2 separate regions of the Homo sapiens genome follow, and region 1 is linked to region 2. The links come from fine-mapping of genetic effects on gene expression. A gene starts in region 2. The other region holds a variant in brackets. All regions are shown on one strand. Distances are from middle to middle. Region 1 overlaps DGCR2 (DiGeorge syndrome critical region gene 2). Region 2 holds the start of ESS2 (ess-2 spliceosome associated protein).

The links.
Region 1: its variant is fine-mapped to the expression of ESS2 in whole blood (INTERVAL, PIP 0.97).

Annotation. Positions count from the first base shown.
Region 1 is chr22:19,111,014-19,121,559 of GRCh38, forward strand. The region is part of intron 1 of DGCR2 (DiGeorge syndrome critical region gene 2); the gene reads right to left. Among named protein-coding and RNA genes, the nearest start is that of DGCR2, 6.1 kb to the right of the region's middle. RefSeq lists an enhancer at 3,200-4,094. The variant G/C (reference allele first, on the strand shown) is at 4,056.
Region 2 is chr22:19,140,204-19,150,749 of GRCh38, forward strand. It overlaps ESS2 (ess-2 spliceosome associated protein), which reads right to left and starts at 4,448. Exons shown (of 10, transcript NM_022719.3): 1 at 4,303-4,448; 2 at 2,523-2,691; 3 at 2,335-2,430. The coding sequence starts at 4,437. GSC2 (goosecoid homeobox 2) reads right to left here and starts at 10,089. Exons shown (of 3, transcript NM_005315.2): 1 at 9,822-10,089; 2 at 9,460-9,713; 3 at 6,790-8,892. The coding sequence starts at 10,080. The coding sequence ends at 8,788. RefSeq lists enhancers at 3,517-4,023, 9,041-9,540.

The sequences.
Region 1 (10,546 bases), 29 kb before region 2:
ATTTTTTTCCTTTTAAAATACCTTTTCCTCATCTTTTACTTTCATGAATGTTTGTTAAGAAGTAATACATCCACACGGTTGAAAACCCACAAAGTCCGTCCATACAAAAGAAGGTGACACTCTAATAAGCCTCCCAAGCTTCTGGAAACACACAGGTAGATTTGATTGCAATCACTGTGTGGTGAGATCACAGAGGGTGGTCACCAGCTGGCCTGAATTGATCACCCAAGCCCAAAGAGACATCACAGCATCAGTGTCCACACAAGATGCTGGTGCAGTCAGAACTGTGAACACTAGCGATGCCCAACTCAGTGAAAAGGTGCCCGGTTCTTAGGCAGGAGGCCCCAGGTGGTGGCGCTCCACTTAGCTCCCTCTGCCATACAGCTCTTTCATCAGCTTTTGGAATCATGGTGCAGGAGGCAAAGCATGTGGCTCAGGATAGCAGTCCTGAGTTTCCTGTTCTTGCTTCTACTTAAAAGCTAAGTGATGCCACCAAGCAAGCTAATTAACCTCTCTGGGTCTTAGCATCCTAATCTCCAAAACAGACCTACCACCTGCCTCACTGATCACCCCTCCACAATGAGTCTTGTCAGGTAAAGGGTGTGTAGAACTATACCCAAACTCCCAGGCCAACCTCAGCCCCTGCTTCAGACAGCTCCCCCATACCACTGCATACCCAAAGACTATCAGAGCACGAACCCAAGCTATCGGATGGAGAGGAAACACAAAGGGTGATGGCTGGTGGAATGAGACCCTGTTAAACCAACAAGCTCACAATGTCAGCACTTGGGCCCAAATAGCCCTTGAACATCTAAACTCTTTTTTGTTTTTATTTTTTATTTATTTATTTTTTTTTGTCTCCAGGAAGAAACTGAAACTTAAAAAGTGATTTACCAAGAGTTTTGACAAAAGTACATCAACGAAGGCTCAGGACTGTCAGAAATGAAAAATAATTATTTTTAAAATATCTATTTATTGGCTGAGCATGATGGCTCATGCCTATAATCCCAGCACTTTCAGAGATGCAGGCGGGTGGATCACCTGAGGTCAGGAGTTCAAGACCAGCCTGGCCATCATGGCGAAACCCCATCTCCACTAAAAATACAAAAATTATCTGGGCGTGGTGGCACGCACCTGTAGTCCCAGCTACTGGGGAGGCTGAGGCAGGAGAATCGCTTGAACCCGGGAGGCAGAGGTTACAGTGAGCCGAGGTCGCACCACTGCACTCCAGCCTAGGTGACACAGCAAGACTCCATCTTTTAAAAAAAAAAAAAAAAAACCTAGGAAAATAATAAAACCGTTCAAAATTGAGATGCTTCCTTACCAATTAGTGTAATGAAAGAGGGGCTTGTTATAAATACTGAGGTTACAGTAAATACCACTCTCAATATTATTTAATAAACATGGTTTCAAATCAAAACAGGTTTTTTTTTTGGTTTTGGTTTTTGAGGCAGGTCTTGCTCTGTTGCCTAGGCTGGAGTGCAGAGGCATGATCTCAGCTCACCATAACCTCTGCTCACTGGGCTCAAACGATCCTCCCACCTCAGTCCCCTCCAAGTAGCTGGGACTACAGGCGTGTGCCATCATGCCCAGCTAATTTTTGTAGTTTTTGCAGAGATGCCATATTGCCCAGGCTGGTTTAGAACTTCTGGGCTCAAGCAATCCACCCACCTCAGCCTCCCAAAGTGCTGGAATTTCAGGTGTGAACCACCCGGCCCTGCCTCAACACAGTTTTGAACCTAACTGTGTAACAATCACATGGAAGAGAGAAGAGAATTAATCCAAGTAGCTTTTGAACCCAAGAACCTTGAGTATACACCATCAATCTGAAAACACAAAGAGCTAAAAAAAATTAAATTAAATTAAATTCTACTTAATAGGTCTGCTGTTACTAGTGGTGCGAATGCAGTACTTCTGAAACTATTCTGGGTGCAGTGTAAGACTAAGCAAATGAGTAAACCTACTGATGCTGTTGGGAGCCAGGGTTCTCACTGTAGAAAAAGAGAGAAACAAACATGCAACAGAGAAAGCAAGCAAGAACCTGGAACGCTGGATTAGAACTAAAGAAACAGTATGGGCCAGGCACAGTGGCTCACGGCTGTAATACCAGCACTTTGGGAGGTGGAGGTAGGCAGATCATGAGGTCAAGAGATCGAGACCATCCTGGCCAACATGGTGAAACCCCATCTTTACTAAAAATACAAAAATTAGCCAGGTGTGGTGGCGCATGCCTGTAGTTCCAGCTACTTGGGAGGCTGAGGCAGAAGAATCGCTTGAACCCGGGAGGCGGAGGTTGCAGTGAGCCGAGATCACCCCACTGCACTCCAGCCTGGCAACAGAGCGAGACTCCGTCTCAAAAAAATAAAAATAAAAAAAAAAAAATAACAGTATGAACTTACACAGGCACAGACACATGCACGTATGCACACACCTCTTGGGCTAGACTGAAAAGATGGAGTCGCAGCATACTCTAGTAGCTAGCAATAAACACATCTACCACCAAAATCCTGCTTTCTAAATACCATCTCCCACCAAAAGGAACCAGCGCTCTGTGGGAAAATGCCCCATTCCAGTGTGGGGCAGGTAAGGTACAAGATGTGCCTGGTAAAAAGGAATTTCAAGTTGATGGAAACATGTCAGAAGGCGACACGCTCCCATCCTGAAAAGGCCAGGTGAAGGGGTTTCCACTTGCCAAGTCAACCTACTGTTATGTAGGTTTGAAATATTTCCAAAGTAAAAAGATTTCTAAAAAAGAATGAGTTAGGCCAGGCACAGTGGCTCATGCCTGTAATCTCAGCACTTTGGGAGGCCAAGGCAGACGGATCACCTGAGGTTGGGAGTTTGAGACCAGCCCAGCCAACATGGCAAAATCCCATCTCTACTAAAAATACAAAAATTAGCCGGGCATGGTGGCAGACGCCTGTCATCCCAGCTACTTGGGAGGTTGAGGCAGCATAATCACTTGAACCCAGGAAGTGGAGGTTGCAGTGAGCTGAGATTGCACCACTGCACTCCAGCCTGGGCAACAAAAGCAAGATTCCATTTGAGGAAAAAAAAAAAAAAAAAAAAAAAGAACGAGTTAAGACAATCTTGCCCCGACCCATTCCCACCTTTCCTCTCCATCTTTTGTTACCAAAGGAAAAAAAAAAAAAAGAATGAAGTTATATATGCACTGATCTACAAAGATCTCAAAATAAGTTAAATACAAAAATTAAATAAAAAATATAATTCCATTTATGTAAAATATTCTATGTATGAATGTTAGCAAATGTGAAGAAATATCAACTTTATTTTTTCTAGATTGTCCAGACAAGATCTTCTACACCCTTGGGCTCTCTCCATGCCCCATGGCTTACCATGCTGGTCTAGCAGGCATCCTTCGCAAATAGGGTAGATGGGGAAATCCGAAGAGCTGCTCCCACTGTCAGGAGTGGCCAAGAAACCTCCAAGAACTGCAGCAAAGGCCTGCCATGGCCCCCAACAAGCCTCTAACTCTTCCAGGTCCTCTTATTCTAAGACCATAGACAGAGTTCTGTAGGTAAACTAATCTACCTGGAGGCCCTAAGAAGCAGCCAGTGGCACCGGAGAGACCTCTGCATCAGCAGACCTAGTTTCAATGGAGCATCTGGCCCGGTCCTGTGGTCAGTCTCCTGCTGATCATCCCTGTGTTGACCTTCTGGGTCCCTCTGCTGTGACTCCTGCCCCTCATCCAGTGCCCTGGCCAGCCACAAACAATCCTCTCCACAACTATGAACTCCTAAGGAAGGTTTCCCAGAAAATGAGACTTCCCAGGCAAGGAAGAGGGCAGGGTCTACCTGGGGGACCCTTAGTCCACCATACCCACCAGAATACTGTCCTCAGTACTGTCCTGTCCAACAGTAGCAGCCAACAGCTGAAGGATGACAGACTAACCAAGGAAGACAAGCTAACCAAACTGATAGCTGTCTGCCATTTTGCCAGAGGTCAGCCAGAAGTCAGCCTACAGGGAGGGACCTGTAGGGGACAAGGGCACTAAGAACAATGACCAGCTCAGAGTGACTGAAGCAACAGCTACC[G/C]CAGGCAGAGGAGGAGGAGAAGGCCAAGAGGCAAGCATGTGCAGCCCATGCAGCCCATGCACCCAGCCAGCTCTTGACCAGAAACAAGCCCTGCACTGTGCAAACAACCCAGGGAAGGTCCAGCCACATCCTCACACAGGGCAGTCCAGTTCTCAAAGCCAGGTGCCAGCAAGTCCATCAGAGAGGCAGCTCCCTCAGCACCGGCTTGCTGGGGTCCCTCCCTCTGGGAGCCCCTCAACCCTCCACCCCAGGCTGGGCAGCTGGTGAGCTTCAGTGAGGATCCACATTAATGAGAAGCCACACTTGCTCTCACCTCTCAGCTCAGCTCCCATCACAGAAGCAAGCTCCTACCAGGGTGGGGCCCAGGCCAGCTGGCTCCACAGCCATGTCCCCTACCCCCGGATCCCATCCTCCCAAGGCATTTTTGCAGGACTGCCACAAGGCTCTCATCCTCCTCGCCACCCCCACCAGAGGCAGCTGCAAGGCCTGCTGGCTAAAGTAGCTGTTGCTCTTTATGTCAAAATATAAATAGGCATTTGTGCATTTGTTCAATAACTGATTTCTGAGTGCCCAGTCTGTGCCTGACCAGGCCCAGGTGACAGAGCATGAATGTGACAAAGAGCAAAACGTGTATGAACAATCCCAGCCCTGTCCAAAGCACCATGGCTGTTTCGGGGGCTCTCAGCAAGTCATACGCAGTCCCTCTGATCCCATCATAACAGCAAAGAGCACTCTCTGTGTGGCAGACACTCCTCAGAGCCACTGTACTCTGCCACCTCCTGAGGGAGCTCTCTCCCGACCAATAAGCCCTGTGCACAAACCACCTCACATTTCACATTTCAGTTCAGGGTTCCTGAACTCTATCTGTGATTAACACTAACATTTTGCCTGATGAAGAGTTTGCTTTATGTCAGACACTTTTTAGAATTTTATACTTACCCATTTTAATCCTCACAACATCTCTATAAAGCTCTGTTACGATGTCCATGTTCCAAATGAGGAAACTGAAGAGTGAGCAGTAGAACAGATTGAGCCTAGGCAGTGTGGCTCTAGAGCCCATGCTCTTAAGCCACCATACCCAACTGCCTGCCATGGGCCAGGATGAGAAGGCTTGATCTAATCCCAGCTGCTACTTTTACAGACAGCTCATTTGAGGCAAAACCAGACCTGAGCTTCCCCATCTCCCAGGAGGATGCCCAGAAGGTCCAGGGCATCTGGGTCCACAGGCTATTCACCCTCCAACCTAGACTTGCCCTGCCAAGCCCGCCATGTCCACACTGACAGGACACACAGCTTGGAATGGCAGGATGAGATGGACTGGCTTTGACTAAACTTCCCAGGACAACTGGTAAATCATGTCAGAAACACAAATACAGGTGTTACACAGCTATCACATAATAACCATACCCAAGCCCATGCATCACTCTGCTCAATGAACTGTTGGCCCAAAACTGGTCTCTCGGGATTACCGAGCCCACTCTGCAGACTGGCAGTGAAAGAAAGGAAAGAGGACGGTCATCAAAACCTCAGCACCCAAACATAACAGCACATAAGAGAAAATCTAATAGCATACCAAGGAAAAGACATCTAATCAGTCAAGAGCTATCTACGGGGTCCTTAAATGTTGTCACTGATGCATTCCACTTAGAGTCAAGAAACTACTAAATGCCAATCGGGTCGTCCTTATGCCAACAACCAAGAGAGGCAGAGGAACTCCCTGCCTGTCAAAGGCTCAGGTCCAGCAGGAGAGAGTCAATAACTAGATCACCTGCCATCAGTGTTGAGAGGATGCATGCACTACTAGATCACCTGTCATCACTGCTGAGAGGACATGCACACAACCGGATCACCTGCCACTACTGCTAAGAGGAAACATGCATAATGAGATCACCTCCCATCACCTCCCATCACTGCTAAGAGGACACCTGCACAACCAGATCACCTCCCACCATGGCTAAGAGGACACGTGCACAGCTAGATCACCTGCCCTTACTGCTAAGAGGACACACACAGATCACTCACCTCCCATTACTGCTAAGAGGATCTGTGCGTAACAAGATTACCTGCCGTCACTGCTAGAAGGACACCTGCACAAACAAATCACCGGCCACCGCTGCTAAGAGGATATAATCACTCAGTACTCTGGGAAGTGGGAAGGAAGGGGTGGGGAAAGTGCCCACAAGCTAGCTTGGGAAGTGGAGCAGCGAAGGCGCAGCCTAACACAGCACAAATCTTCCACAACAGCAGTCTTCATTCCTAAACCCAGAACCGCCAACTAAAACAATAACCCTGACATGCAGTGATGCCAGCTTGCCTCCACCTGGGCCAACCTGGGCTTTAACTACAGGGCTTCCTGCACCCATGAGACCTTCCCACGTGACACAGGGCTTGGCACATAGCAGGTGTTAGTGAGAACGATGGGGTGGGGTTAAGTGGGAGCAGCCTCTACTCTCTGCAATGGTTAACATGTACAAGGATAAACGGCCATGGCGCATACAACTTATTCTCAAATGGTTCAGAAAAAAGCAATGTGTGTGAGTACACAGATATGCACATACACATGGAAGATGAGGGATAAGGCAAATAAGGTAAAATGCCAACAGTAGGGAAGCCTCAGCAAAGGATATGCAGGTGTTCTCTGCACTCACTTTACTCTTGCAACTTTTCCGGGAGTTTGAAATTATTTCCAAATAAAAGTTTTCTTTTTGTCAAGAAAAAAAAGGAAAATTCATTAGCTAGTGAAGGTAGAAAGTATATTACATCACTTTCCAACTAAAAAAAATGAACCTGTTAACCCAAAAGCCAAATCTACCAGTGGACAAACTCTACAAAGTGTCACAGTACTGGCTACAGAGGAAAGCACTCCAAACTCAGGAGGATTTGGCAAGGCTAGGTGCAAGCTCACCTCTCCAGCTACTTCTGAACCTCGGTCACTTTTCCTTGTGATGAAAATATGCACTCTCTCCCTATGCACCAAACCCCTGTGCTACTTCACATGAAAGAAAACTCTGGACTCCAGCCGGGGAGAGGTGGCTCACACCTGCAATCCCGTAACTTTGGGAGGCCAAAGCAGGTGGATCACTTGAGCCCAGGAGTTTGAGACCAGCCTACATGGCCAACATGGTGAAACCCCGTCTCTACTAAAAATACAAAATTATCCCAGCATGGTGGCGTGCGCCGTAATCAAAGTTACTCTGGAGGCTGACACAGGAGAATTACTTGAACCCAGGAGGTGGAGGTTACAGTGAGCTGAGATCCCGCAACTGCACTCCAGCCTGGGTGACAGACAGAAACTCCATCGCAAACAAAAAAAAAAAAAAAAAAAAAAAACAACTCTGGACTCCAGAGCCAAGGTGCTGTGTTCACTTCTCAGCTCCCTGAGATGTGATCAGCTCAGCACAGCTGCCTACTGAAAGCAAAAGAGAAAGAACCCTGAGCTAGCAGCCAGCTCCACCTGGGTCTGAACCCACGCTCTGCTGCTCACCAGCTGTGTGACCTTAGACAAGTCACTTGCCTCTCCCAGCTAGCTGTACCAACAATAGAAGGAAGACGACCTTCTAGTCCTCTACCTTACCAAGGGGCCTAGCTGAGCACAGGCCCTGTACAGGACCAACAACCAGCAGGAAGGGACCAGGGTGCACCAGCATTCAGAAGGCAATTTTTTCTCAGCTATGTATGGTGGGTTCAACCTGGATAGAGCTGTGGCTCATGATATAATTTTGTTTCACAATTAAAGCTAGAAAGAAAAACAGTTTTAGAATCAGCAGTCGATGCTGCCTTCTCTACACAGATGGAGAAAGGGCCAATGAGACAGTATCACAATCAGTGGTCCCCAAATCCCCCCACCATCTCGCTGTCAGTTACCTCAGCAGTAGTCTCCAACCGTTCTTCCTCATCACACCCCCAGTGATCATAACACACATCATCAGTGGTCACATGGCCAAACACAGAAGGGATTTGGCAGAGGGTGAGTGGTTCTGTCCCTCAGACTGGAGTATCCACATGGAAAAAGATTCTGCACCCTCACCTAGAGGACCCTGGGACCTAACAGGGGACAGAGGCAGTCTGTGGCTCCACCTGGGGTTAAGGAAGCTGTTCAGAGCATAATATGAGGTACTCCTGTGGCTGGGCTGGAGACACACAGTTGGAGTGCACAGACCCCAGTCACGGGTGCATGATGGGGGGAAGGCCAGACTCCTACGATGAAATCTCATCTCAGCCTTAGCTTCATGAGTGCTCTGGATTTCAGCTTCCCCATCTTTAAATGAGGCTAAAAACAGCATCTAGCAGGGACCTCTTGAGAGTTAACATATGTTAGTGCTTAGAACAGTGTCCGGCACATGACACATCTTAAATCAAGTTCAAATGTGCACTTAAAAAAAAATTGCTGGGCATGGTACCTCAGGCCTGTAATTCCAGCACTTTGGGAGGCCAAGGCAGGTGGCTCACCAGAGGTCAGGAGTTCCAGACCAGCCCGGCCAACATGGCAAAACCCCATCTCTACTAAAAATACAAAAATTAGCCGAGCGTGGAGGCGTATGCCTGTAATCCCAGCTACTCGGGAGGCTGAGGCAGGAGAATCGCTTGAACCAAGGAGGTGGAGGTTGCAGTGGGCCAAGATCACGCTACTGCACTCCAGCCTGAGCAACAGAGCAGGACTCTGTCTCAAAAAAAAAAAAAAAAAAAAAATTGGTGAAAGGTCAAGTACAGCAAGCACTTGCTGCCCCATAACTCCATGAAAGGCCTTCCACCCTGCCCTGTACCAGAGAGGAAGCCCAGGTGGCTTGGCATCATCTTCAGGGACCCCACCAGGCAGGAGTCAGAAAACACCCTCCTGAGAAGTGGGCTCTGACTGATACCTTCCTCATACTCAAGTATGCTTTTAAGGCCGGAATCCCCACAGAAAGAACGCAGACTAAGACCAGAGAAGCCCCAGCCTCTTGCAAGCACCAGCCAGGCAGATCCCTGCAGCACTCTCAGGAAGGACACATGGTGAATGTGTGAAGAGGCACACACGGGCATACAAGGAACACATCAGGCCCAGAGGCCTGCCCTCCCTGCCCAGCCAAAGCCAGGAAGCCAGCTGCAGCTCCCGGGTTCTGCAGGGCAACTCAAGACGCCTCCAGGGGTAGCTGCAATGTTCTCATCTGGAGAGTCATGGAATCGAAAGAATAAGTTTGCTCCCTCTACCAGATCCACCCCACCCATGCCCTACTCCGACCTCAGTGTGAGGTCTCCTGTGACGCCCTCACTGCTTCACAGGTACAAAAAGATGGCCACCTCCACCCACCTCTGGGACCCCACACTCCAGGGTATTCAACACACAGGAGTGTGACAAGTGACTTACACCTGGCCTCTGTTCCACATCAGGCACTCCTAAAAGGAGGGGCTTGTTCTTGTCACTTGGATTCCCTAGGGATGGGCAGGGGGCAAGCACCCACAGGCACTTTCTCAGTTGCTGCTGGCCAGTTGGCAGGCTATGTGAAAAGGCTGGCAAGGAAAAAGGAGTCGGGGACGTCAGTCACCTCTATCACCCAGGCAGGAGATGCTGGGCCTGGAACCAGAGGCACCCCAAAGAAGCCAGGCATAATATGGCCTCACCTGAGCCCGGTGACCTCATCTGCAAAACTGGGACTCAAGAATCAGAAAACGGTGACCTTCTACCTCTCTACACGTACATATATGTTTTCTAAAGAAGTTAATCACAAGAATCCACAAACCCATTGGTTCTGACCTCCAAGAGCCTATATGATACCCTCCTCCACAGGTAGCCCTTTTCCTGGCTTCTGTTCTTACCAAGGCCACCCCACAACTAGTCATCCCGCTGCCCAGAGAGCAGCCAAAAGCAGTGAGCAACTAGCTCTACATGGGGAGACCAGAGAAGCATCACTGAATCTGTCCAGGTTGAGCACCGGTCAGGGCCTTGGCCACCAGGCAGGCACTAGGGAGGAGGCAGACATTCCACATAGATGACACAAGCGCAGAGCCAAGAGGTGCGGTGTATCTGGGCTGGGAGCCTGGCTAGGGCACAGGAGAGGGCCACACACCCCGTGCTCCCACACCCAGGTCATCAGAGAAGATGGCCCTGGCACTTCTGCCTTCATGGGACCTTTCCTCCATTAAGAAATATTAAGAGTCATGCTTTTTCACTGTATTAGTATAAAGATGACTGTATTAATATACATACGAAAACATTTTATTTGACCTAAAAGTTCATTTTTTTTCTGCTGACTTTAAAAAAAAATAAAATAACATTCGAAGGCTACTAAAAGTACCGTGGGCAAGTGATACCAGGATTCCTGTGCCTGATGGATACATCGGCCCTGCATTTAGGGAGTTTGATTTTTTGGTGCAGTTCAAGGGGAGGTACACCGAAATAGGTAGAAAAGGGTCTCCTGGTTGCCACGGTTCTGATTCCCCACCACAGACTTAAGAACACACTAGCTCCGAGGGGAGTTCCAAAGCACGGACTCATTCATCACATACACGCA
Region 2 (10,546 bases):
ACCCTGACTGCCCAGAGAGCCCTCAGGTGGTACCCTACAGATTCAGGGCCAGCTCTGCTCATGTGCTGGATGCCAAGGGAATTACGTGGTCTGATTCAGACTGGAGAAAGCAATACAGGTGTTAGAGCAAGAGCTCGTGATCACAGGCAGGCTCCTCCCCCACCAAAGTGGTGCCAGGCCTGTGGGTGCCAGGCCTCCAAATCCCTGGGGCTCTCCCTCACTCCCTAGGATTTCCTTACCTTACCCACTCTTCTCTTCCTGGTACCTGTACTACAGGTGGGTGGTCATCGCCTAATCATCCTGACCTGAGAGCGAGCCCCAATTCCAGGGATCTCATATGACTTAGTCCTCTGGATGGGGCCTCACAGGTGCTAAGCCACAACCCCAAACACCCCCCCCTCCGACCAACCCTGCCACCATGGAAAGTGGTACTCCCACTGAGGTGGTGCCCTGGTGCTGCGTGTGGTGGTGCAAACTTCGGTGGGGCCACCTGGAGAGCTCTGCCTTCAAGTCTAGTGACAGTCCTGACCACCTGCTACACGTGAGGCTATGCACAAGGCACAGTGGCTACAAGCTCAAGACCCACGGGATGAGGACAGGGGTCAGAAACTCTATTCATCTCAGAGAGATAAGAAGTGAAACCCTGACCATCTCTGAGACCTGCAGAAGTGACTGCCTTTCTGAGCCTCAGTTTCCTCACCTGTAAACATGATGATGGTTCCTACCACTTAGGTTCTGAAAAGGATTCCTATATTTACTGGCATGTAGGTGTACAGGTATTGAAAATCTGCAAACTGGCTAGGCATGATGGCTCACACTTGTAATCCTAGCACTTCGGGAGGCCAAGGTGGGAGGATCACTTGAGCTCAGAAGTTTAAAACCAGCCTGGGCAACATAATGAAACCTCATCTCTATAGGAAAAAAAAAAAAAAGGAGAAGAAAAAAATCTACAAATTGCCCTGTGATGCACAAGCTACATTTCAACAGATAATCAAGCTTCAAGGACAACAAGGACTGTGTTAATGGCCGAAAAAGCTGGATTGTAAAGCAAAAAGTATCATGTTTGCATGTTTGTGCAAACACACAACACATCTGTGCTACTCCAGCACAGTGGAGTCTACAAACTGATAAGAAAGAGTGTCTCGTTTGTCTATACATGCACTGACATTCTACTACTGATGAAAAGAGGGCCTGACAACGCAGAAGTCCCATGGCGTGCAGAACACTTGCATTCAACAGGACTCGGAGTGCCCTTTCCTAAACCGACTCCCCCATCAAGTCACGATGTTACCATATAGAGCTGTGTGTCCCAGCAAACATGCTGAAGATGACAACTCTTTCATCTGTTCCATGTGTATCTGTGCAAGGCCCACAACACCACATGTGCTGTTCCCAACACGGAGCATACAGATGAAAGCAAAACAAAGCTTCTGCTCTTGTGCAAGGGATGCCAATTAGGGAAAGAGACCATAAACAGAAATGCCTTTAAAACGTTATGTCTTGGCCAGGCGCGGTGGCTCACACCTGTAATACCAGCACTTTGGGGGGCCGAGGCAGACAGATCACCTGAGGTCAGGAGTTCAAGACTAGCCGGGACAACATGGCAAAACCTCGTCTCTACTACAAAATACAAAAATTAGCCAGGAGTGGTGGCAGGCGCCTGTAATCCCAGCTATTTGGGAGGCTAAGGCAGGGAGAATTGCTTGAACCTGGGAGGTGGAGGTTGCAGTGAGCCGGGATCACACCATTTTACTCCAGCCTGGGTGACAGAGCGAGACTCTGTGTCAAAAAATTAAAAATAAAATGAAATTAAATAAAATAAAATGTCTTGTGATGAAAAACCAAAGCCAGGCTGGAAGCCACAGAGCACCAGTGGTGTTGTGACTTCACACTGGCAGGTCAAGAAAAGTTTCTCTGAACAGGTAACACCTATGCAGAGATCTACAGGAAGAAACACAGTGAGCCATGCAGTTATCTGGGAAGTGACCAACATGAAGGAAACAAATGGAGAGGCCCTGAGGCATCTTCAGGATAGTAACAAAAGGGGCCTTCCAACATCCATGAAGCCCACAGGGCAGGGCTGGAACACAGCAGAAAAGCCAGCAAGAGCTGGTGAGAGTCCCATTTCACAGAGGCGAGCCATGTGTGGGAGCTGGACCCAGATGTTCTACCACCTAGACCAATGTCCTTTGACTTCACAGGCTGCTATTTACGCAAGACCCCTCAGGAACAAGATGTGGCCTGCAGCCCTCTGGACCACCCCCTCAGGGCCTCACAGGCTAAGATTCCCAGGCAATCCTGACCATGTGACTTAAAGAGGGCACCCTCACTCACCATCCTCCAGGCCTCGGCCGCGGGGCCTGGGCTTGTTGCCCACCACTCCAGTGCCTGCATGCACCTCAGGGGTTTCAAATGTGGCTGGAGTCACATCTAGGGGAAGAGAGGGGGATAAGAATTAGAGTGAGCCTGAAGCGACAGTTCAGCAGGCTTTCCCCTCTCCGCCACCCACAGGGTCCTCATACAGGGTGGCGGGGGCTCCCGGGACATCTTGCCCAAGGCAGAGCCAAACTTGATGGCAATCTGGCGCATCCGTTCCAAGTCTCCATTCTCCTCGGCTTCCAGGTACTCCTTCTGTGCCTGGAGCTTCTCCACATCAGGAAAGAAATCCCTTTGGATGACCGTCTGGAGGCCCTGCAAGGAGAGATCAGAATGAAAGTCAGAGGCCAGGCGCGGTGGCTCACACCTGTAATCCCAACACTTTGGGAGGCCAAGGGAGGTGGATCATGAGGTCAGAAGTTCAAGACCAGCCTGGCCAACATGGTGAAACCCAGTCTCTACTAGAAATACAAAAATTAGCCGGGCGTGGTGGCAGGCACCTGTAATTCCAGCTACGTGGGAGGCTGAAGCAGAAGAATCGCTTAAACTCGGGAGGCGGAGGTTGCAGTGAGCCAAGATCACACCCCTGCACTCCAGCCTGGGCGACAGAGCGAGACCGTCTCAAAAAAAAAAAAAAAAAAGAAAAAAGAAAGTCGGAGCTGCAGTCTGGGTGCTCCTGCCTCACAGGTCCACTGCTGTACATGCTAAGGAACTTGCTGAACCTCCTTCAAATTCTACTTCCCCAATGACTGGGGCTGGATTGAGGGAGCTTGAGGGCACTTTCTAGTGGGGTTGAGCATCCCATATGGTAGCCATGCTGCAACCTCTAACATTACTAAACACTCTTCTGAAGTCCGTGAAACCCTTCTCTCTCGCCCTTGCTAACTGGTCATTCTCATTCTCCATTGCTGGCTCCCCACAAGCCAGACCAATGTGGGTGTTGTCACTTTCATTCCACACATGACTTTCTATTTCCAATCTAAACCTTTCTCCTGGCGGGGCATGGTAGCTCACGCCTGTAATCCCAGCACTTTGAGAGGCCAAGGCGGGCGGATCACCTGAGGTCAGGAGTTCGAGACCAGCCTGGCCAACATGGTGAAACCCCACCACTACTAAAAATACAAAAATTAGCCGGGCGTGGTGGCGGGCACCTGTAGTCACAGCTACTCGGCAGGCTGAGGCAGGAGAATGGCTTGAACCCAGGAGGCAGAGGTTGGTTACAGTAAGCCGAGATCGCGCCACTGCACTCCAGCCTGGACGACGAGCGAGACTCCGTCTCAAAAAATAAAATAAAAATAAACCTTTTTCCTGAGTAACTTCAGCCAGTCACTACCACAAGTTGAGATTCCCAAGTCTGCACCTCCAGCCAGACCTTGCTCCCGAGCTGCATATCTGGGCACCCAACCGTCCGTTAAAGCCATCCATCTACATATCCCAAAAGGTGTCCCGAATTAAACAGGTCTAAAACCAAACTGACTTCCGCCAATCCCCGTTTCAGCTCCTCCTTCTGTGTGCGTGTGGTGGGGCGACGCAGGTCCACTCACTCGAGATGCTGTCACAACTGCGGTCTCTTTCCAGGAACCCCAGCATTCACACTTGCTGCCACCGCTCTTTAGAAAGCCCTCTTTGCCACCATCCTTCCAGTTTGTCAAACTCCTACTCACACTTTAACAGAAAATCTTCTTTCCCTGACCCCCGTCCCATACAAAGAGAGCCGCTCTCTCTTTTCCCTGACAACACTACTACAGCCTCTTCCACCACAGACGTCTTCCTCTGCCCTGTTTACTTGACTCGTGGGACCGTCCACACCCGGCTCCTCCACTTCCACGAGGAGACGGAGTGTCAACACCCGAGAGAGGGAACCTGAGAGGAGCTTGAAGCAGAGGATGGGCCCAGAAGTCGCCGGCGTCCGCACCGAGGTCGTACCTCGATATACTCTTCCTCGTCCAGGACCCGCTGCTTGCTCGTCGCAGCCCCAGCCTCTCCCGCCTCGCGCTTCCTCGGGGGCCTGGACGCGGCGGGAAGCAACAAGGACGACGCTGATGCGCCCGGCGTCTCCATCGCTATCCCAGGAAAAAGCTCGGGCCCAGCAGGCGCGTCACAGGGTGGAGGGGGCGGGACTGCACCATTTGCGCAGGCGCCTCCAATAGTTGGCCAATGGAAAAGCTGTGGCTCTAGAAAGCCAGCCCGCGCTCCGTTCTGACGTCACTATAAATGCTAGACTTTATTGGAAATGTAGTCCTTGTCCTGCCCCGCGCTATTCATGCTTGTCAATGCTGTGAACACGAGGGGGTGCTGTGGAGGTGGCGGGGAGGATGCTATAGGGCGTGTTCTTCACGCGAGAAATTCTGGCTTTGCAGCGTCCAAAGGCCTTAGAATTCTAATTTCCCACAAATAAGAACTATGTATGCTTCGAGATTATTCTACAAAAATACAAACCAGGAAATTTACTTATATAGGAGTTTCAAGCTTTATGCAAGAAAAGGGCCTTAAAACAATTTTTTTTTTGAGACGGAGTTTCGGTCTTGTTGCCCAGGCTGGAGTGCAATGGCATGATCTCGGCTCACCGGAGTTCCCGGGTTCAAGGGATTCTCCTGCCTCAGCCTCCCGAGTAGCTGGGATTACAGGCATGGGCCACCACGCCCGGCTAATTTTGCATTTTTAGTAGAGACAGGGTTTCTCTATGTTGGTCAGGCTGGTCTCTGGATTACAGGCGTGAGCCACCGCACCCGGCCAAAACAATCTTTTTTTTTTTTTTATAGTTATCTAACAAAAGGTGAAAGAACAAGACAGTGGTTCGATTAAGAAATGTCTAAAGATTATTCTGTAATCCCAGAACTTTGAGAGGCCAAGACAGGCGGATCACCTGAGGTCAGGAGTTCTAGACCAGCCTGGCCAACAAGATGAAACCCCATCTCTACTAAAAACACACAAAAAAATTAGCTGGGCATGGTGGTGGACGCCTGTAATCCCAGCTACTCGGAAGGCTGAGGCTGGAGAATTGCTTGAACCCAGGAGGCGGAGGTTGCAGTGAGCTGAGATTGCACCATTGCACTCCAGCCTGGGTAACAAGAGCAAAACTCTGTCAAAAAAAAAAAAAAGATTATTGGGCCCCCAAATGCCAGAGTGGGCTTCCCAGAAGAGGGATCATTCTCATTCAAGACCAGGCACGGTGGCTCACGCCTGTAACCTCAGCACTTTGGGAGACCCAGGCAGGTGGATCACTTGAAGTCAGGAGATTGAGACCAGCCTGGCCAACATGGTGAAACCCCAACTCTACTAAAAAAAAAAAAAAATACAAAGTGGTGGTAGGTGCCTGTAGTCCCAGCTACTTGGGAGGCTGAGGCAGGAAAATCACTCAAACCCAGGAGGTGGAAACTGCAGTGAGCAGAGATTGTGCCACTGCACTACAGCCTGGGTGACAGAGTGAAACTCTGTCAAGAAAAAAAAAAATTAATATTCAAGTGAACCAGAAAATTGCCTCGGCATTTTTAAGGAATTTCTTCCCAAACGAAAGATGTGAATTGTGTTGGACAAATAAATTCCGCCCTGGAACAATTTAATACAATTTTGCTTTTGCAACATACAGGGATACCTTCATTCACTGAAGTGCAGCGTGCTGCTGCTGCCCTTGTAGAAGTGACAGTGCAATGGGGAAGACAGAGACACTTGTTAGATCATCACACAAACAGGTGTAAAATTGCAGCTGTGTCCGTGCAAGAAAAGAGTTTGTACTTGGGGAATCTTGACCTAGTTCGGGAGGTCAGAGAAGCTTCCCCAGGCAGAAAGTGATTGCAGATTCAAAAGACGAACAAACCGGCAACAGTCAGGTGGAAAGAGCATGTGCAAAGGCCTAGTGGTGGGAGGGAGCAAGGCAAGTTCTAAAGAAGTCCTTTGGAAATGCAGAGTGCAGTGAGGTGTGAGATGATGCCAGAGAGGCAGGGCCAGGCTGCACAGGGCCTTGTAGGGTATGGTGAGGTGGTTTGTCTTCATTCTGAATTGAAGGGGCAGGCCAGGCACAGTGGCTCATGCCTATAATCCCAGCACTTTGGAAGGCCTAGGCCGGCGGATAGTTTGAGGTCAGAAGTTTGAGACCAGCCTGGCCAACATGGCAAGACCTCATCTCTACAAAAAACTTTTCAAGTTAGTCGGGTGTGGTGGTGCCCACCTGTGGTCCTAGCTACTCAGAAGGCTGATGGGGGAGGATCGCTTGAGCCCAGGAGCTGGAGGCTATAGTGAGCCATGATTGCACCACTACACTCCAGCTTGGGTGATGGAGCGAGACCTTGTCTCAAACCAACCGACAAACAAAAAAGCAGAGCCAGTGTGGTGCAGGTGGACAAGATTAGAGACAGTTGCAGTGGTCAAGGTGAGAGGTGACGGTGGCTTACATCAGACTGGTGCAGTTAGAGCTGGAGAGATTCTGGGATTTATTGATTTATTGATAAACAGTAAAACTGACTTCCTGTCAGCCTGGGTATAGTGGATGATCAGGAGAGGGAGGGGTCCAGGGACCAGTTTCGGGTGGGCGGCTAGCTCTCTGGCTCATGTGCCTGGTTTGCACAGAAGAGCTCACTGTGGACAAGGTGACCTTAAGGAGTCTGTGGGCTTCAAGGGGACAGCTGGAGATAAATACCTGGCTCAGGGGAAGTGCCTGGCTTGAGATGTAAATGTGGCAGAAAGATGGGAATTGGAGTCTGAGGGTAAAAGATAAACCGGGAAGAGGGTGAAGATGAGAAGCGAGCGCCTGGGTGTGAGCGTGAAGGATGCCTATGTTAATAGCCTGCTGTGGGGGGTCAGCCTGCCAAGGAGCAGCTAGAGCTCAAGAAGCAAATTCAGGAGAGCAACACAGCCACTGAGCCCTGGAAGGTGGCGCTCCACAAGCTCTGATCGGGGCTCCCAAAACAATGACAGATGGCCATTCAACCAAGGAACTCAAGGGGCCTGGAGCCTGTGAGATGCGAGTGTCCCCAGCTGCAAGGGAGCTGACTGGGACACGGGCATGTCCACAGGTAGTCTGTTCAGTCCCCAAGGGCAAGACCAGGGTTCAGGGAGAAGGGCTTTGTGTGCATGCTAGGGGTGGAGGCGGGGATGCTAGGGACACCCAGCAGTGTCAGGGCAGTTCTGACTGGGGACACCATGCTTGCTTGGTGTTATCCAAGCTGGCCAGCCTTGGGGTGTCTGGGGAGCTGCAGCCCTGGCTTCTGCAGTCCTGCTTTTAGAGATGGACTTCATCTCTTGCAGGTAGAATGGCCCCATTCCCTGCAGGGCCTGTAAGGAGACAGAACGAGGTGCTCAAGCCAGCTGGGGGTGGGGATGTGAGATGCTTTGGACCCACTGTAGGGCCTACTTGGGGAATCTAAGGCTTCTTTCCACTGTGCCTTTTGCCATGGGCCAGGATAAAGAAGGGGAGGGCAGGCATCTTCCCAGGCAGCAGGGGCGGGGTCTCCCCAGTCCAACCTCCTCTTGCCCTACCCTAGGATGGCACAGATTGCTGTGAGGGAGTCCGAGCCCACAGCATGAAAACCCCAGGAGGAAGCAGGGGACCCTCACCCATGGGCAGGTTCACAGTAGCCTAGAGGCCAGGGCTGGACCCCAGGGGTCCAAGGCCACCATCCGTGGAGCAGTCCCCTCTGCTGGGGAGCACCCTGGTGCAGAGACTGAGGATCGCTGAGCTGTGCTCCTCTCAAAGACAGCTGTACCCTAAATACCCCCTCGCTGGGAAGGAAGAAGAAGGGACAGCTCCTTGTTGGGTGTGGGAGTGGAGCCAAGGTGGACTTGAGACTCTGGGCGGCTTCTGTGGTATTTGAAGTTGCTAGTTTCTCAGTATCAGCGCGAGGCTCGAAGGTGAAGGGACTGTGGAGGGGCTCCTGGAATCGCTCCTGCGACCTTCTTATTCTACAGGTCCAGATACCAAGACCCAGCCCAGGGCCTGGGAAGCCTGCAACGCCAGGACTGCACAGACACGAACCCCATCCCCTCTCCCGCTGGGGGAGGACGAGCCAGGTCAAGTTAGGTCAATGTCCACATTGAGAAGAGGGTGGCCAGCATGTCCCAGGGTGCGGAGAGACGCTCCACTGCGTAGGATTCTGGGTCCCGTGTTGATACGGGGTGGTTCCCCTCCTGCGGTGGAGTTAGTGTCTCTCGGGGGGTAGGGAGCTGAGGAAACTGCTCTATGCCCCAGCCCACCCCCAAGGGACTCGCCACTCCCACTGCCGTGGAACACCAAGCACCGGGGGCCCGTCCCCAGCGCCACGGCAGCACGAGCTGCAGGAGGCAAGGGCTGTGGAGACGGGTGGAGGCGGCCGGTGTACTCTCCCAGCTCCTTTTCGGGTAGACCTGTCTTCTCTCAGCGCCAACTCCAAAGATCCCAAAAAGGGTGGCCGAGCCCAGGGGCAGCTCCTAGAGTCATCAGCAGCTCCCCTTCGGGGACTTCTTGACGCCGGGCAGGAGCCTCGCGGAAGCCGACGCGCGCTTCTGGTGTCGCCATTTGGCCCGGCGGTTCTTGAACCAGACCTGGGGATGGGGGGAATGCTCAGCCCTAGCCCCAGGTCCTGCGTCCCACCGGCTCCCGAGGGTCCCACAGGGACCGAGAGGGGAGCTTCGCAACAGGGATGTGGGCGGACGGCGCTGTAGAGCCGACACCCGGGCCGCGGCTGCGCGCCACCTGCCCTTATTCGCTGCGGACAGACTCGGTGGGTCTGGACGCGAGATGGGAACCCCCTTAGTACCCGCCCCAGCCTCCAGCTGGCGGCGACCAGGACGCCCCTTCTTGGGTTGCGGGCTCTTCTGAATTTCCCAAATTCTGGACGTGAACGCGGGCCTCTTTCGTCACCAGAGGAAAGTGTAAAACAAAAGAAAAGAAAAGTAGCCCTCCGGTTCCTTTCCCGCGGCACCTCCCTGCTCTCACCCGCTCCTCATACCCCCGGACGCCCAGCGCCGTCCAGGGACCTCCTCCCTCCGGCGCGCCAGGGCGGGGCTTGGGCCGAGGCCGTCTTTGCAAAGGGCGCCCGCCCGCCAGGACCCCAGTCCAGTGTAGCCGCGGCCCGCGCGCTCCGGGGAAAGGCTGGGCGGGGCACTCACCTCCACGCGCTCCTCGCGAAGGCGGATGCGGCCGGCCAGGCGCTCGCGCGTACTCACGTCAGGATACTGGTTCTGCACGAAAAGCGCCTCGAGCGCCTGCAGCTGCTCTTCGCTGAAGATGGTGCGGTGGCGCCTCGTGCGCCGCTGCGAACCCGGGCCGACCGCGCCCGGGAGCGCCCCGGAACCTCCGGCTGGCGCACCCAGAGACAAGGGCACCGCCGGTCCCAGCCTCAGCGGCCACGCCAGACGAGCGCCTGCGGAGCGAGGGCGCGGTGAGGCGCGGGGCTGGGGCCAAGCTCGGCACCCACTGCGCCGCGCCCCGGGCTCCGCCGGGCCCCGCGCCCCGCTCCGCGCCCACTCACCCAGCCCGGCGGCCGCCTCTGGGGGCCCGCAGGGCGCCGCGCGGGGGCCGCAGCAGCAGCAGCAGGCGCAGGGCGCAGCCTCGGGCGCCCCGGGCTCCTCTGGCTTCGCGGGGCTCTGGCGACCGGCGGGCTGCGGTGGGCAGGCGGCCCGGGCCGGGAGGCTCCGCTCGGGCAGGCTGGAGAGGATGTGCTCGATGGAGAAGGGGCAGGGCCGCCCGGCACCCCGGCGGCTCGCCGCGCCCCCAGCCGCTGCCGCCATGCCCGGCCCGGCCGGGGCGCCGCCGCCGCGGGAATATATACGTCGGGGAGGGAGCGCGCAGTAATCCCCGGGCCGGGCGTCCAGTCCACGCGGGTTAATCCCGCAGCGCCGGCCGCGAACGCGCTAATCCTCGACTGCGGCGGCCCTGCCTCCGCGCGCGGGGGCCGGGGGCGCTGCAGAGAGGGCCCCCTGTGCCCCCCACCCCGCCCCGCGTCCTCCTGCCCCACCCGCGCCCGCCGCTCAAGCTGGCAGGGCGACCTGCGGGGAAGGGGCGGAGGGCCGCCTCGCCGCCGCCCGCGGGGCCTGGCAGCCGCTCGGAGGGCGCCCCGACCCTGGCAGCTCCCCAGAGCGCGGCGGTGCCTCCCGGCCCAGCCTCTGGTGGCTCCCCCTCGTTCGGCTGGGCCTAATTCCTCGTCCCCTCTGGGGCCCTACTGCGGCGGCTCAGCACGCCTGCAGAAGCTCGGCC